Linked DNA regions of Homo sapiens: region 1 is linked to region 2. The links come from fine-mapping of genetic effects on gene expression. Tissue or cell type: whole blood. Region 2 holds a variant in brackets; the other region holds the start of a gene. All regions are shown on one strand. Distances are between the middles of the regions.

Region 1 (8,101 bases), 120 kb before region 2:
TGACTATGTGTGTGTGTGTGTGACTATGTGTGAGTGTGTGTGTGACTGTGTGTGAGTGTGTGTGACTATGTGTGAGTGTGTGTGTGACTGTGAGTGTGTGTGACTATGTGAGTGTGTGTGACTGTGTGACTATGTGTGAGTGTGTGTGTGACTGTGTGAGTGTGTGTGACTATGTGTGGGTGTGTGTGACTATGAGTGTGTGACTATGTGTGAGTGTGACTGTGTGTGTGTGAGACTATGTGTGAGTGTGTGACTGTGTGTGTGTGACTATGTGAGTGTGTGTGACTATGTGAGTGTGTGTGACTGTGTGACTATGTGTGAGTGTGTGACTGTGAGTGTGTGACTGTGTGTGTGTGTGACTATGAGTGTGTGACTATGTGAGTGTGACTGTGTGACTATGTGTGTGTGAGACTGTGTGAATGTGTGTGTGACTATGTGTGAATGTGTGTGACTGTGTGTGAGTGTGTGTGTGACTATGTGTGAGTGTGTTTGTGAGTGTGCGTGTGTGTGGTGTGACCCCACTCCCTCAGGGTGGGAAAGTTCCCTGCCCATAGGCACTACATGCAAATGCACCTTTCTTCTGGGGAATCAATGGGTGGAACAGAAGGGCCCACCATTCCTCCTTGTTCCCTTGGTAACTCTCCTATGGGGCCCCCAGAACCCAGGTTAACCACAGAATACGGGGTCCTTGGGTGGAATGTGCCAAAAGGCTGGTGGGCTGTGCCCATTAGGAGAAGGCCCCCTGACTAAAGTGGGGAGTGGAGGAGACTGAACCAGGTGATGAGCTCGGCCATGTGGGTCCGAGTGCCCACTTCCCTACTAACAGCTGTTTGGCTTGGGACAAATAAGTCCACCCCTTGGGAGCCAAATTTCCTTTTCTTGAACTGGAGTGAAAAATCTCACCAACTTCACATGGTTCTTGTGAAGATTAAGTGAAATAACGGATTCAAAATATGTTATGCAAACGACATATGCAAACCTGCTGTTCCCATGTGGTTCTGAAGGTGACAGCATGGCCTGCTTTAGCCCCAGGAAGGCATTCATGGTGATGAGCACCTGTCCAGCCACTGGCCAGGTACAACCATTCAAGGGCAGAAAAAAGATCTCATCTCGTAAAATCCAAATGGCCATGCATTCCTGGGCCTATGGGCGCTCTCCAAGGTAGCTGCTGGGTGACAGCCCCAGCCCTGTGCACACAGATTATGACATCACTCAGAGACGAGCCTTGTGTCCCGTCTCACCATGCCCATGTGACTTCTCAGTGGAGCCTGTGGTGACAGGGGGCAGGTCTAGTCCTCTCTTCCTGGACCACCCTTGGAAGTCTCAATCCACCTGTGTGTCCACCCACCCATCCACCCATCCGTCCATCCATCCACCCACCCATCCACCCATCCGTCCATCCACCCTTTCACTCATTCACAAATATTTTGAGTGGAGACAAACCAGGAAAGAGTCAAAATGGGGCCTGCAAGCTAGCCAAGCCTTGGTGCTGGTGTGAGCACACAGGCATGTACACACACACACACACACACAAACACACACACATACAAACTCACACACTCTGCGCAGACTCACCTTCTCCAGTAGCTGCCTCAGCTGTTTTGTGCGGGCATCCCGTGAACACATGGTCTGCTGTGGAGCGACCACTGTGCAGATACACCTGCCCTCGCTGTCCTGGGCAGAGCTGTACACCTGCCAGCTCTCCTCAGGGTTGGTGGGCAGCACCTGGAGAGGGGCGGGGCGGGAAGGGAGAGGGAAGGAGAGAAAGGGAGACCATGAGGTTGTGTATCAGAGCCAACAACCAGGGGAAACTGTCCACATCCACCCCCAAGGAAAAGATGGGAGGAAATGGTCCCAAGACATGTTTGACCCAAAGGGAAGAAAGGGTCCCTGGGAACAAAGAGGCACAGGTCTCCTGTTAGGGGGCTCAGGGCTGGAAGGATGTCAAAGAGGCAAGACCCTTTACGTTCTTAAAATTTAAGTTCAACTCAAGGGATGTCTGGAGTTTGTCGTCTGGCCAAATTGATCTGCTGGGTGGATGGGAGGGGCAACTGGAGGCCACAGGCTGGACTAGGAGCAAGGCAGGAAAGCAAACGCTGGGTGGCTTGCAGCGGGCACGTATTTCAGAAACAGGATATCCTTCCCGTAAGTCAAGCACGGGTGGCTGGCACCACCAAGCCTCGCCCTGCCGTTCCCTGACACTTGCAGACGAAGCACCCACTGTAACAGCCCCAGATCCAGCAGCCTATTCGCCCAGAGCTGTGATGAACCCCGAGCTACAGCAACCTCCCAGCCGGCAGCGTGGCACAGACCGACCCGAGAAAACACTAGGTTTCCAGCTCCTTGTGGGCTCCCCCCACGAGCCATTTGGTGGAGGTCGCCAAATTGCTGGTGACATGCTGTGCAGGGGTCACCCCCAACCTCAGTCCTGAGGTTTGCCCAAAGATCACCAAAGAAACCGGAGCTGCCCATGTCTGGTCTAACCTTGCAGCCCAGCCCTGCCAGGTACCGGGGCGGGCACTCCTGAGCCTACACAGCTCCATCCTGCTGCTGGCCCTACTGTCTCTGAGCACGCTCCCCTCCGGTGGCATCAGGTCATCTCTCTGCTATTTTTAGCATGAAGATGGGGAGGAGAAGTTGGGCGGGTAGAATCTATAGTAGTCATATCTTTAATCTCATTCATTCCCAACCCCAGAAGATCGGGACCGGCAGGCCGGAACAAAGTCATCATGGAGGAATCGCCCTCCGATTCCTGAAGGAGCAGGGAGGGCGGCCTCAAGAGGGGTCTTAGGAGGGAGCCACACCACGGAGCCCTCTTCGCAGGGCACTAAACCCCTGGCAGCAAAAAGAGAGAGGGAGGGAGACTCACGTCCTTCACCTCTCCTTTCAGCCTAAAGGGCCAGTGGTCTGGGGCGCGCCTTCCCGGCAGCGGCCCCTTCCCCGCGCGGCCCTCCGGGTGGCGGTTTCAGCTCAGCCTCGCTCAGCCATCTAAGTCAGCTCTGCCCAGAAGCAGCCCCGGCCACGGTTCCCCTCCCGCTAGGCTCGAGAGGGAGACGCGATTTCAATTTCAGAGGCCAGGAGGGAGGGGTGCGCGCAGAAGACGAAGGCAAAGGCGAGGGGGTGAGCGCCCAAGGGCAGGCTCCCAGGGGCCCCACCCAAGCCCCTCGGCACCGTCCTCGGAGGAGAAGGAACAAACCCTCCTATGGACTGGGGAGGAAAGGGCGCCTTGGGACTTTGGGAATGCAGGCGCGGGCAGGAGCTCCGGAGCCCACCGGCTGGGGCCCCACTCCCAGCCCGGTCCGGCCAGTCTGGCTTTTACAAACTAGGGCGGGCTCAGTCCCCGCTGGACCGAGCCCAGACTAGGGTCTAGCGGCGGCTCCACCCCTCACTCGCTGAGTGTGACCTTGGACAAGTCCCCAAGTCCCCAGCCTTAGTTTCCTAACCTTTTCAATGGGGGGCTCATGATTACTGACCCAGGACTCCAAGCCTCCGAGAACCCACCAAGCTCCCCCGGCCCCGCGGCGAGGGGCCCAGACGAAGGAAACGCCGCCCCAGGGGCGCGCGGGCGGAGATGGAGTGGCCCAGGCTGGGGGAGCGGGGAGCAGGGTCGCCACCGCTGCGCCGGCCCGCGACGCCTGCCCTTGCCCGCCCTGCTCCCCGCCGCCTCCCTGGGCGACTCGGGTCCCGCGCGGCGCCCGCCCAGCCCGGGGCTCCGGACCGAGGAGGGGGAGGAGGAGGAGGAGGAGGAGCCGCGCCAAGGCGGCCGGCGGGCGCACTTACGCCGGTGCTGCGGTCCAGCGTCCCGCCGCCGGCCGCCGAGAGCTTGGTGGTGTTGAGGCCCACCAGCGAGGGCAGCGTCTGGGACATCCAGTTAGTGATCATGGCCATGGTGCTCAGCACGACCCCGATCTTGAGCAGCGGCACCGACATCGCGCCTCGAGCTGCCTCCAGCGCCCGCTCCGAGCTGGCACCGGCTCCCGCGCCCAGGCGGCCTTCAGGCGGCGGGCACCGCGGCGGGCAGGGGCGCCTGGCTGTGTCCCCGCGCCCCCTCGGCCCGCCGCCGCCCGCCCGCCGCCGCCGCCGCCCCGCGCGCCCCGGCCATCGCCGCGCCTTCCCCGGGCGCCAGGGAAGGTGGCCAGGTGGCCTCTGCCCGCCGCGCCCTGCGCCTCGCGCCGCCCGCCCTGCGCCCTGCCTTGCCCGGCTGCGTCCCTCCGGGCTCCTCCGCCGCCACCGGGAAGCGCCGTCCGGCTCTGAGCGCTGCGCGGGCTGCGCGCGGGGGCCGCGGCCGGGAGGCGGGGCTCGGCCGGGCGGGACCGACGCAATCCGCCCAGGAAATGGGTGGATTTTTCCTCTCGCTCGGCTCCCCGCCGCCCCCTGGCTGCTGGCAGCGAGGTCTGCAAACTCCAGTCCGCCCAGGAGTTGGGATCAGGGTGACATGAGGAGACGGACACACCACCACCCCCAGATCATAAAATACCCGGCGGCGGCGCGGGGACTCCAGCTGGGGGCACGGCCCGCGGCCCTCCCGTCCCGGGGCTTCTCCCATCCTCACGCCGGGGCATCCCTCTCCGATCCCCGCAGAGGGTCCGCTTTGGGGCAAAGGTTGCCGGCAGAGAGACGGCGCCGTCCTGCCTACTGGAGCCCTTTTCCGCGGTGATTCGAGGGTCCCAGCCAGCCTGGGCCGTCGCCTGAAACCCAGCAGGCAGGGCAGGCTCCGAAAAGCAGCCAGACTCGCGAGGGCCTCCAGCGCCAGGGGGGCGTCGGGGCATCGGTGGAGAGCTAAAGGCGCCCCTGCGATCCCAGGGCAGCCGCGGTGCCCTAAGGCCTTGCTTGGGAGGAAGGGAGCCAACCGGCACTCCTGACACCTGCACAGCAAGGCGGGGGCTGGGGTGGTCTGCCGTGGCCCGCGGTGCGCAGTGAGGGCCCTGGGAGGGCGCACACCCGGCAGGAGCTGCATAAGGTCTGGGGCTCAGGCCTGGACCTCAGGAGCTGAAGGGACCACGCCCATGAACCTGGTGTTGGGGAGGTGGGTGTGTGGGGCGGGGACTGGGGTCTGTGGTGGAGGGGTGTGGGTTGGGGGGTGTCCTTACTGACTCAGGGGTGGCGCTCGAGTCATGGCGCCCAGGCACAGAGGCAGGGCAAGTGGCGCACGCTGCCCCTCTTCCCGGCCCTCTGCGGCGACCGCAGCAGGACTCACGCGTGTCAGTCCCACCTGAAGCGCAGGCCTGACTGGGTCAAACACGTTAATAGGGCTTTTGCATTTACAGAAGGCTTCTAATCGGAGATGAAAGCCACTTCCTCCGGGGCCTTCCATTAAGCTTTCCCAGCCATTTGGGAAGGAAAGAATCCTCCAGATCACTCACTACACTCTTCTCTGCCTGGGCGAAAATTAATCTCCCTTCCTGGATGGGATTTGAAAGACGGACGCCGGGCCGGAAGGAGCGCGCCTCCCTGGCGCCCGCCTGAGAGGAACAACGCCTTCCTGGGGCTTTTCTCTCTGTGTGCGCAGTCCTCGGCTGAAGAGACTTCAGCTGCAGCCAAGATGATCCTGGCCTGAGTGCTGGGTGTGAGACCCGCTAGTTAAATGAGCCCCTCAGATCTGCTTTTCTGATTAATGCTGTAATCTCAGGCAGCCGGGCTGGGTCGGATGCCAGGAAATTCCAACTGTTGGGGAAGGGCGCCATCTCCCAGTGTAAGCTGGGACTGCAGGCCCGGCTCACAGACTGGGCCCAGGCGGAGACACAAGTCCGGTTGGGCTGGCTTCGCCCCCCTCCTCTGGCCATGCATGTTTAACACCGATTCAAGGCCACAAGCCGTGTCTGTCCAGATCACTCACGCCGCTTCCCGCTGCGGAAGGACAAGGACCACTTGTTCTGCGGGAACAAATTCAAATGCAACCCAATCCAATCCACAAAACTGTCAGGCCATCTCAGAAGCCATAGACATTTATTTATTTAACGAAGTAAAAGATTAACCTGCACTTGGACTGCTCTAACCTGCACCTGAGCGGCTCCAACCTGCACCTGAGCGGCTCCAACCTGCACCTGCTCCAAACTGTCCTGTCCAGTTTCTAAAATCTGTGATTCAGTGGGCATAATGGTTTTGAAAGGGTCGTCAGATAAGGCTTGAGTAAGTGTAATTGGATTTAGAAGGCCATGGAGCATTCCAGAAGGAAAGTATGGATCGTTGAAGAATGAAGGCATTTGGATTAGGGGATCCATGGCGCCAGGCAATACCAAGTGTTCCTAAAGAGGACTTTCAATCCCAATTTCTTCACGACTTCTCTTAAAGCCAGGGCTCATCACACCTGCAGCTCTGAACAATCATACGGATGCTGATGGGGCAGGTGCTGCGCCCCTGGTGGCACTGGGGCTTTGCCATGCCTGGCACCCAATCCTTACTGAAGTGCATGGTGTGGTGGCATTGACTCCACTGTATAGATGAGGAATCTCAGGCCTAGAAAGATGATAAGACCTGTCCAAGGTCATATGGTGACAGCCTATTTCCAGGGCTAAGCCCATACACATGGTGGCATCCTCGTCTTATAAATGTCATGGCCATAGTTAAATCTCACGAGCCCCAGAAGTGGCATGAGTTGCATGGCCACAGCAGCCCTGGCTGTCCGCACAGTTCCACGAGCCACAGAGGCCGCCAGAAGACATTTCATGGGCCCTTGCCTTCCACGCTCGTGGGAAGGACAGGAGGTTGCCCACCCCTTTCTGAGTCCTGGCACGAGCCTGCACCACCCTCCCTGTCATGACAGGTTAGAACAGCCACGTCTCTATCCTCATGCCAGCCCCCTACAGGCCTTGACCTTGGTGGACTCTGTACAAATTCATCAACACACATAAAAACAAGCACACCCCCTCTGCATCTCCCGGCTTCAGAGCTCAGAAGACGCAAGTGTGAGAGGGTGCTCCTGCCCAGCTTGCTATAGACCTTACAAGAGGCGGACACACGTGGGCTATTGGGGAATCACCTCGAGAAGCCCTAGGACAGCCACATGGTGAGCTGATAGGGCACAGACGACACCAACACCCACAGTCAGACGACCACTGACACCCACAGTCAGAACAGTGAGGTCCGCAGGATGCAAACCTACTCAGGTCCCAGAGCCAGGAGTGGCTGCTTGGAGGGAAGCAGGTCTCTGGGCCACTTCCCGATGCTCCTTGGCAAAGGATGCCCTCAAGGGACAAAGTTTGGATGCCCGGTTGCTGTTTAAAAATACGCATACTCTCCTCAGGCTATTGGCAAATATCTTGAAGGGAAACAAGGGGAGGGGAGGAAGAAAGGGAGGGAGAAGGGGAGAAGAAGAGAGAGAGAGAGAGACAAAGGCAGAGAGACAGAAAGACAAAGAAACAGAGAGGAGACAGAGAGGAAGACAAAGAAATGGAGAGAGAGACAGAGAGAGAGGAGAGAGAAGAGAGGAGAAACAGAGAGAGGAGAGACAGAGAGAAGAGAGACAGAGAGGAGAGATAATAGAGACAGAGAGGAGAGACAGAAGAGAGACAGAGAGGAGAGATAATAGAGACAGAGAGGAGAGAGAGAAGAGACGGAGAGAGGAGAGACAGAGAGAGAGATGAGAGACAGAGAGAGAAGAGAGAGAGAGAAGAAAGATAGAGTGACACAGAGAGAGAAGAGACACAGAGAGAGGTCCCACATGGAGCCACCTCTCCTTTTTCTACGTTGTATGTAGCTTTTTCATTCCCTTTCTGTGCTGGAACATTCCAGGAGCAAGGAAAGGACCTGGCCTCAAGCCAGGCAGAATGGGAGGAGCCACAGGTCCCCTGGGCACTCCCTCTCGGCAGCCACAGAAGACCAGCATGGGTCTTCTGAGCCAAGTGTTCCCTGTACTCCCCTCCTCTGAGGCCTCTGGGTTCACACATGGGTGGAGGCGTAACTGCTCCTCACCCCCTTCCCTGGAGAGGATTTCCATCCTGGCCCGGCTCCCTGTGCCTGGCAGCACCTCCCATAAGCTGACAGTCTCCCAAACACCACCTGCATCAGGCGTGGCTGTGTGACCTGCGATTTTGGCCCCGGGAGGGAGAACGGCTAAGGGCCACGACTGAGCAGCTTTCAGAGCCAAATGTCTCAGTCACAC
Region 2 (8,101 bases):
TCATGCATTCATTCATGTATTCATTCATTCGTGTACTCATTTATTCATGCATTCATTCATTTATTCATGCACTCATTTGTGCATTCATTCACTTATGATTCATTCATTCGTACATTCATTCGCGCATTCATTCATTCATGCATGCATTCATAGTATAGTTCATGTGCCCTAAGCCACATACTATGAATGAGTAAACCTGGGGAAAGAGAGAAGACACAGCTCACCTCCTCGCCAAGCTCCCAGTCAAGTGAGGAAAGAAAAGGAGAGGAGGAAAGCGAACAGGGAACAGCCAGGCAAGGAGACCTGGCCTCCCAGGAGAAGCCACAGGTGCCTGTGAGCAAGGAGGGCACAAGCCCCTCTCTGGGCTCTGAGGGTGATCACAGGAAAACATCCTATGAGGAGGGCAGTCAGCACCAGCCCCCACCTCAGGCCACATGGTACCAGCCTGGCTGCCCTCACTCCAGGGCAAGGTCCTTCAGTTGGAGTCGTGAAAAGCAGGCAGGAGACCTTGGGGTCCTGGAAAGTAGAGATCACAGGCGGGGTTTGGGTCCTATGGGAGAGGGGAGCAGGGTTAAAGAAGGCTGGCAATGGGGGACCCAGGATGCAGGGGGAGAGGAGGAGGCTGGAGGATCCCCAGTGCACAGTGCTGATGCAGCAGAGAGAACAGAGTTTTCCCATCAGGGCTGTCAGGGACCATGGACCTGGGCCACTGAAATGCCTGCGGGAAGTAACCCGCAACTGGGGTCCTGTTGAGGTGTTTATCTGCAGGCAGCTGGGGTCACGAGCTGGGAAGCAGGACTCCGGGCAGGCTTCCTGGAGGAGGCGGCCTTCAGGTGGGCCAAGCAGTCGTTGTGACCAGCAAGCGCCACCTGTGCCTTATCCACTCCCACACTCACTGCTGATATGCTTCCCTCGGAATCACCGCTGAAGTTGAGTCCTAGGCCACATGGTGTCTTTCACATACCCCTTTCTGTTCCCAGCCCAGGTTTTAGCCTCAGAGACTGCCTCTCAGTCTCCATCTGGCTTTTCCAGCTGTGAAACCCGGGGATGAGACCCAAGCCCCTGTCCTGGCCCTTCCAGCCTCCCCTGCCCTGGTGCAGCTTTGTCTCCCTGGGGTGACATCGGCCCTAAGTTAACAAGATTCCACCCCAGGAGGTGATGAATGGCTTGTTCCTCTCCATCCTTGTGGAGAGCTGAGCTGTGGCAGTGACACGGCCATGTATACGCCCAGAAGAGTGATGCTGGGGCTTCTCTGTGCTCCGTCCAGGTAGTATTTGTCAGCCGCTGCGGCTTACCAAGCATTTCCAGGTCCACATTTCACACCCCAGCTGCAGTCCCCCATCTCCTCTTCCATGTGCAGAAACAGGGTCTGGCCAGGCAAGCTGAGGTCACAGACGGTCAGCAAAGGAGATGGGACCTGAGCCTTTTCCCTCGATAGAACTTTCTGGCCCCTGCAGATGATTGGATCTTGCAGAGATGAGGCCCTAGGGCTGCCCTCAGGAAGTGTCTTTGTCCTGGCTCCTGGATATGCCTAAAGTCTATGCTGCCGGACCCAGGGACTGTTTTTGGAACCGAGCAACTTGCCTTCTGGTGCTGGAGCTGCCTTGGCAACCTTGCGATGTGGTGGGGTGAGCTCGGGTCGGGAGACTCACACAGAGGGTGGACTTCCCCTCTGCTGCTCCTCGGCTGTGTGACCTTGAGCAGCTCACTGCGCCTCTCTGAGCCATGCTGGGAGATGTCAGTGAGACACTGAGACCTGGACATTGGACACCCAGTCCCCTTCCTGGCGTAGAGATGGGCTGCTGAAATGCTCCGGTCCCTCCACCTTCCTAGACAGGGTCAGGAAATGCTGCACTGTCCTGGCCAGACACATTCCAGGTCCTGGTTGTCCCTAGGGTGGCAGCATTTAAACTGCACCCAAGGGACCAGAGTTCCCTCTGGTTCGCTGGAGGCATCACTGGCCGCAGCCCACCTGGACTCGTCTTCATTTCCTTTCATTACATGAAGCCTGTGTTGGATTTGCTGCAATTGACAAGTGAAAGAGAATAGGTGCTCAGCCCACTTTCAGCGCCATTGGGTGGGCGGAATTTGCAGCAATTAATTCCAGGGAAGCAGCTTCAGGACAGGGCCCCAAGGGCTCTGCGCAAGGCCAGGCAGCTGCTCCGGAGCTGGGATGGAGGATGGTCCCTCCTGCCACGGGAACAGTCAGGCCGCCCACATCCTGCTGAAATCTTGAAATCTGAGCTCTGTTCTACCCCCATAGTCACTGAGTGCTTGTCCATTAAGTAGCACACAATTGCTTTTTGGAAGCAGACCTCGAGGTGGAATAAGATAGCATGTATATGATAGAGGATTGTCCCAATTATATCTCTTCTTCTTCTTCTTCTTTTTTTTTTTTTTTAAGGAAAGGGGACTAGAATGTAGCACTATGGAAAATTAAAATCTTGAGAAAGCAGCATTAGAATAAAATGAGTCTGCTTATGGGCAGCCCTTCCTCCCCCTGATTAATCAGACAGGAGGCTGCTGTGAGCAGGCTGGTTCTGCTGAGGCTGCGCTCTGGGGCTGCAGTGAGAGAGTCCCATGTCCACGCGGGCAGACGCAGCCGCAGATGCCCGAGGAGCCTGGCCTCCTCAGCTGCCCGTTTCCTGCTCTGAGCTGACAGCAACTGCCCACGCCCAGGCCACTGCCTGCTGCTACTGCCTACTGCAGACGCAGACGCACTCCCTCTAAACTGAAGAAGTTCTTTCTCAGGGTTCCTTCTCATGGTCTGAGAAGGCAGCAGTAATAGCGCAGATAGGGGGTCACCTCGGGGAGCCTTATTCTCTCCACCAGGACGAGCTGAGGGTGCACAGGAAGGTCGACTGCCCCTTGGGGGGCAAGTGGCACAGGCACTGCTGAGGGGCACCCGGACGTATCTCCTAAAGCTGAGGACACACGAAGCCCACAGATCAATTGTGAAGCATGAATGTGAAACTGCATGTCTACAGCGGCCTGCGAAGGCACCCCTGTCCGGCGATCCCACGCGGGGCGCTGCCGTGGGACATTCTCCCTCTTTTCATCCGTGCAGCGGCTCTGAGGGGGGCATGGGGCTTGTCCCTGGGTCACCGTTGAGGGACTTGAGGGATGTGGATGGCCCAGTGCCCCCAAGGAGGCTGCGTAATTGGGCAGCATAGCTAGAGGCTTTTCTCAGGATGGCTGCTCTCAGCGTGAGTTGCAAACCCCTTGGGCAACCCCTCTTGCCCCAGTCTGGGCTGGGAGGCACTGGGGGACTCATTTATTGCTTTCACATCAGGTAAGCCCAGCTGCAAAGCTGTTCCCGAGACCAGAACTGCATGTGGCATCTGCAGAGCCCAGAGTCCACCAGCAGCCTTGAAGCACAGAGGAGGGAACTGGCCCGAACATTCAAGAAAGGAGGGCCCAGGGCCACCAGAGGGTAGCAACCAGCCCAGACTTCTGGTGCCACTGCCCACCAATCCCGGCAAGGCCATTGTCCCCCGCCAGGGCTGTGGCTGCTAAATGCAGGGCAGGCATGGGTGAGCTGCAGGCTCCAGGTGGCTGGGATCCCCCTCCTCCTCCTCTCTCCATCCCCCAGAACAAGGTCACAGACTGGACCGTGCTGGCCACCATGGCACACAGGGCCTTCAGGCATCACCCGTGAGTTCCCTTTGTCATGGGAGAAATGGGGGCTTGGAAAAGTGGTTCTTAAATAGGCAGCGGCCTCAGGCTATTAGACACCTGCTCGGCCCACAGGCGCATCAAGACCAACTCCCTAGCGGCCTTTTCAGGACGACCTTGATATCAGCAGGCAGGAGTTCCAGCGAAGGGGAGGACACGCCCACCTGGCTCTGTTAGGCTTGCTGTCTCACCCTCGGTGCATTGGCACCTGGTCTTCTTACCAAGCAACAAACCCATTTTTACCCTCTTTGACTCCAGGCAAACAACCCTGCGTCCAGACAGTTAGGAGGCGAGAAAGGCAAGGGCGGCTCCACCCTGGCATCTCAGCTACCTCCCTAGAGGCTGCGTCAGGAACTGGTCACCATGAGTCTTCCTGCTCATTGTGGAGCCTTTCAAGTTATCAGTGAGAGTCCTTGGATCAGCTCGATTACTTTAGAAACTTTATTTCCCCAGTTTTAAAAGCCATGCGTGTTCATCGTGGAAGGCTGCACAGTAAAGAGAAGCCTGCAGGCCTTCCTTCTTGGCGCATTTGCTGAGAATTTGCTAAGGGCTCTGCTGTGCCCCATGCTGGAGATGCCTGTCCCTGTGGGTTTGGGCCTTGGAGAGGCAATAGTTACAATGACTCACCAAGGCATGTGTCCTTGCAAAGGGATGGCTGAAGGGCTGGGCACGACAGGGAGGCAGGCCTGGTAGCACCAGATCCAGGGGTTTCTCAGATTCTGCTCTGAGTGGACACAGAGGGCAAGCATGGGGGAAGGCTGTGGCTGGCCAGCGTCACCGCCCATCACCTCACAAAGATGGTGTGTTTGTCATCTGCTACCATGCAGCAAATTAACCCAAAACATAGAAGTTTCAACAAGAAACATCTCTTATCTCAGGGTCTGTGGGTCAGGAATTGGGGTGCTTCTGCCCCAGGGTCTCTCATGAAGTTGCAGTCAAGTTGTTGGCCAGGGCAGTATTCATCAGAACGCTCAACTGGGGTGGGAGGAGCTGCTTCCAAGCTGGTGCATTTGGCCATGGGCAGAGGGCTTCAGTCCACACCATGTGGGCCCCTGGTAGGGCTGTTCCTGGGTCTCTGCAATGTGACAACTGGCTTCCCCAAGAGCCAGTGATGCA[C/A]GAGAGAAAGCAGGAAGAGGCTGCAATGCCAGGCTTGACCAACTCTGAGGCCACACTGTAACCCATCCGGACACCAGGTCCAGCCCACGTTCAAGGGGAAATGAGTTGAACTCCACCTCTTGAAGTGAGGATTACCAAAGAAATGGTAGCCATATCTTAGAATTTCTGTGAAAATCTTTCCATATTTCTCTATGCTGGCTTATGCCTGCAGATATAAATATTTAATTTTTATAAATTGGATGATAGTATACAACCCATGTTGAATCCTGATCTTTTCATTTAAACATGTCAAGGAGAAGGTCTTGCATCTGGAAATGTGGATATGTGTCATTAGTTTTGATATTTTAGGCATTATATTTCAAATAACATGATGCCCTAATAAATGTTTCTTGAGTAAGTGAATAATGGACAAATGCCCGGTGACACCATTAAATGTCTTTAACCCCTCACCTACAGGGAGTTCCAGTTGGATTCAATGCTCAATTATTTTAGAATTTAGATAAATATTGCATGAGAGATGGCTGGTGTTCCAACCACGCTCTCTTCCCCCGGTGCACATGTTTCTCAGGCGGTCCTGTGTGTACTGGAGTCTGGTCAATGGGAGGTGAGAGGAAGTGCTGTGTTCTGCTTCTGGTCAGCCATAAAACCCCTCATGTGTGGTCCTCACGCTCTCTCCCTCTCTGTCTGCTGAACCAGAGAAGGGTGGTACCATGGAGCAGGCAGGACCTGGATCACAGCATCGCTCTGTGGGTTTCTATGTTGGGAGAAACTGCCGAGGTTTGGGGCTGTCTCTTACAGCAGTAAACACACCAGATCTTTGTGCCTTTGCCTAGGGATCTGAGACATTCTCCCAGGGAACTGGGGGCTGGTTCAAAGGACACATGTATCTTCAGCGTGGATACCTGCCATCAGACTGCCCTCCACACGTGGCCGTTTCTCCTCCCAAGGGCTCTGTGGCGTGGCCTCCAGCTCCTGCAGGCATTCCACAAGCAAAGCAAGAATGTGGACCCCAAAATGTGCTCCCCAGAGCTCAGGTCTTGATGCCACCCCCTCCTTTCCTGGACTGGAAACTGCCTAATATGGGCCAACTGGGTCATCTCAGCTCTCAGTTCTGAAGACATGACTGTCCAAGGAGCTACTCTGTAGTCCCAGAGCGGTGGGCACCCGGAGGCTGCACTGCACATGGGGCCAGGGCTAACTCCTCCCCATCTGGGGCACAGCCACACCCCGTCCTACTGCCCTGTTGCTCCATCCCTCCTCCTCCACTGGGCACTGGGCTCCTGGCAGGCAGCTTCTGTCTTGGCCCAGCTTAGCACACAGTAGGCACCGGAGACATGCACCATGTAAACGAATCAAAACAAGGATGAGTGAGTGAGAGCGTGGCTGACATGCATGTTAGGAGCTGAACCAAGCTGCCCCTCGCCCCAAATTCACATGTTGAAGTCCTCACCCCAGCAGCTTGGAGTCTGTGATCGTATTTGGAGGTAGGATTTTCAGAGAGGTAACTAAGTTAAAATGGGGCCATTAGGGTGGACCTTAATCCAATAGGACTGGTGTCCTTAGGAGAAGGGGTGGTAAAGACATGGACACCCACAGAGAGAGAAGATGGCACCCACAGGCCAGGGAGAGGGGTCTCAGAAGGAACCAGCCCTGCCAGCCCCTTGATCTCAGACTTCCAGCCTCCAGAACCGGGGACAATACATTTCTGGTGTTTAATCCTTCGTCAAACATAACATGCTTCATACAGCCGCTGAGCAGACTCGTATAGGGGGCTCGGTGGCTCGTGACTGGACTAGGGAGGTCTGAGGCCTCAAAGCCAGCAGAGGCCGGGGCCTCTGGGGGTTCCAGCAAGTTCCTGTGATGAGGGTCCGGACACCCGCCCACGACCTCGGCCCCACTCGCTGCTGCGTGGGCTGCCCCTGGCCGCGGTGCCAGCTTCCACCTGCGATCCCCATTTTGTCTCTCAAACCCTGCGGATCTGCCCTCATTAGCTGCTCCGAATCCCATTTTTAGTCCTTTTATTTCCACACCTCTGAAACGTCAGCATCTTTCACTTCATTGCCGGTATGGAGCCCTGGAAGGCCAATTATTCCCCATTTGGAACAAGTTCTCTTCAGCACGAAGAACTTCACATAAAAAGTTATTCATTTTATTTCAGGCAGCTTGGAGAGAAGTCATGCCCTGTGATGAGTTGGAGAGAAAAAAAGGCGCAAGCAACTGCAAGGTCCGTGTGTGTGAACGCCGCATGGATTTGCCTCCAAAGAACACGTGAGCGACCCGCGCTGCGAGCAGTGCCTGGCTCCCGGGGCCCCGCGTGCTGGAGCCGCTGCGGTCACGCCTGGTGCTGTGAGCAGTGCCTGGCTCCTGGGGCCTCGCGTGCTGGAGCCGCTGCCCTCACACCTGGAGTTAAAGACACTGGGGCTGAATTCGGGCTCAGCCACTGTCTGCATGACCAAGGGTAAGTTACTTAACCTCTCTTTGCCTTGGGTTCCCCATCTGTGCCTGTGGCTGAGACCATTTCCATCTCAGATGCATAAAGTGATGAGCACAGTGTCGAGCCCCACAGTCAGCCAACAGCACCGTCATGATCATCCCTGTCTGGGTTGTTCCCTCAGTCAGCCCATGAGGCAGGTGGAAGAGATCTTACTAATTACGCAGAGGAGGAAAGGGGAGCTCAACAATGTTAAGGAGCGGCCGGGCGCGGTGACTCATGGCTGTAATCCCAGCACTTAGGGAGGCCGAGGTGGGTGGCTCACTTGAGGTCAGGGGTTCGAGAACAGCCTGGCCAACATGGCAAAACTCTCTCTCTACTAAAAATGCAAAAACTAGCCGGGTGTGGTGGCGTATGCCTATAATCCCAGCTACTCGGGAGGCTGAGACACAAGAATGGCTTGAACCCAGGAGGTGGAGTTTGCCGGGAGGTGGAGGTTGCTGGGGGGCGGAGGTTGCTGAGAGGTGGAGGTTGTGGTGAGCCAAGATTACACCACTGCACTCCAGCCTGGGCGACAGGCCCTGTCTCAAAGAAAACAAAAAAGAACAATGTTAAGGGGCATGTGGAGCCAGGCCAAATGCAGTCTTCTGATTTCAAGCATGCTGCCCTCTAGGACAGGCGGGCCCTAGTGTTAGGGTGGGGAACCGTGAGAGCTATGCAAAACAGGACATGCCTTACACTAGCATATGTTGATGTGGGAGATATTTTCTTCTTGGTATTTCAAATCAGCACATGCTAATAGTCACCTTTATGTTCTGAGCAAGTTACCAAAGGGTTTCTTTAAGGGCATATATTTGCTTTTGTGGTCTTTAAAAAGCC

Evidence for each region. PIP is the estimated chance that this variant, and not a neighbour inherited with it, causes the effect.
Region 1: it holds the start of OLFM1, and the variant in region 2 is fine-mapped to the expression of OLFM1 in whole blood (TOPMed, PIP 0.90).

The regions. Positions count from the first base shown.
Region 1 is chr9:135,083,819-135,091,919 of GRCh38, reverse strand. It overlaps OLFM1 (olfactomedin 1), which reads right to left and starts at 4,252. Exons shown (of 6, transcript NM_001282611.2): 1 at 3,781-4,252; 2 at 1,576-1,725. The coding sequence starts at 3,930. RefSeq lists enhancers at 1,988-2,791, 2,792-3,596, 4,231-5,091, 5,092-5,952.
Region 2 is chr9:134,962,291-134,970,391 of GRCh38, reverse strand. No RefSeq gene overlaps it. Among named protein-coding and RNA genes, the nearest start is that of FCN1, 48 kb to the right of the region's middle. The variant C/A (reference allele first, on the strand shown) is at 4,792.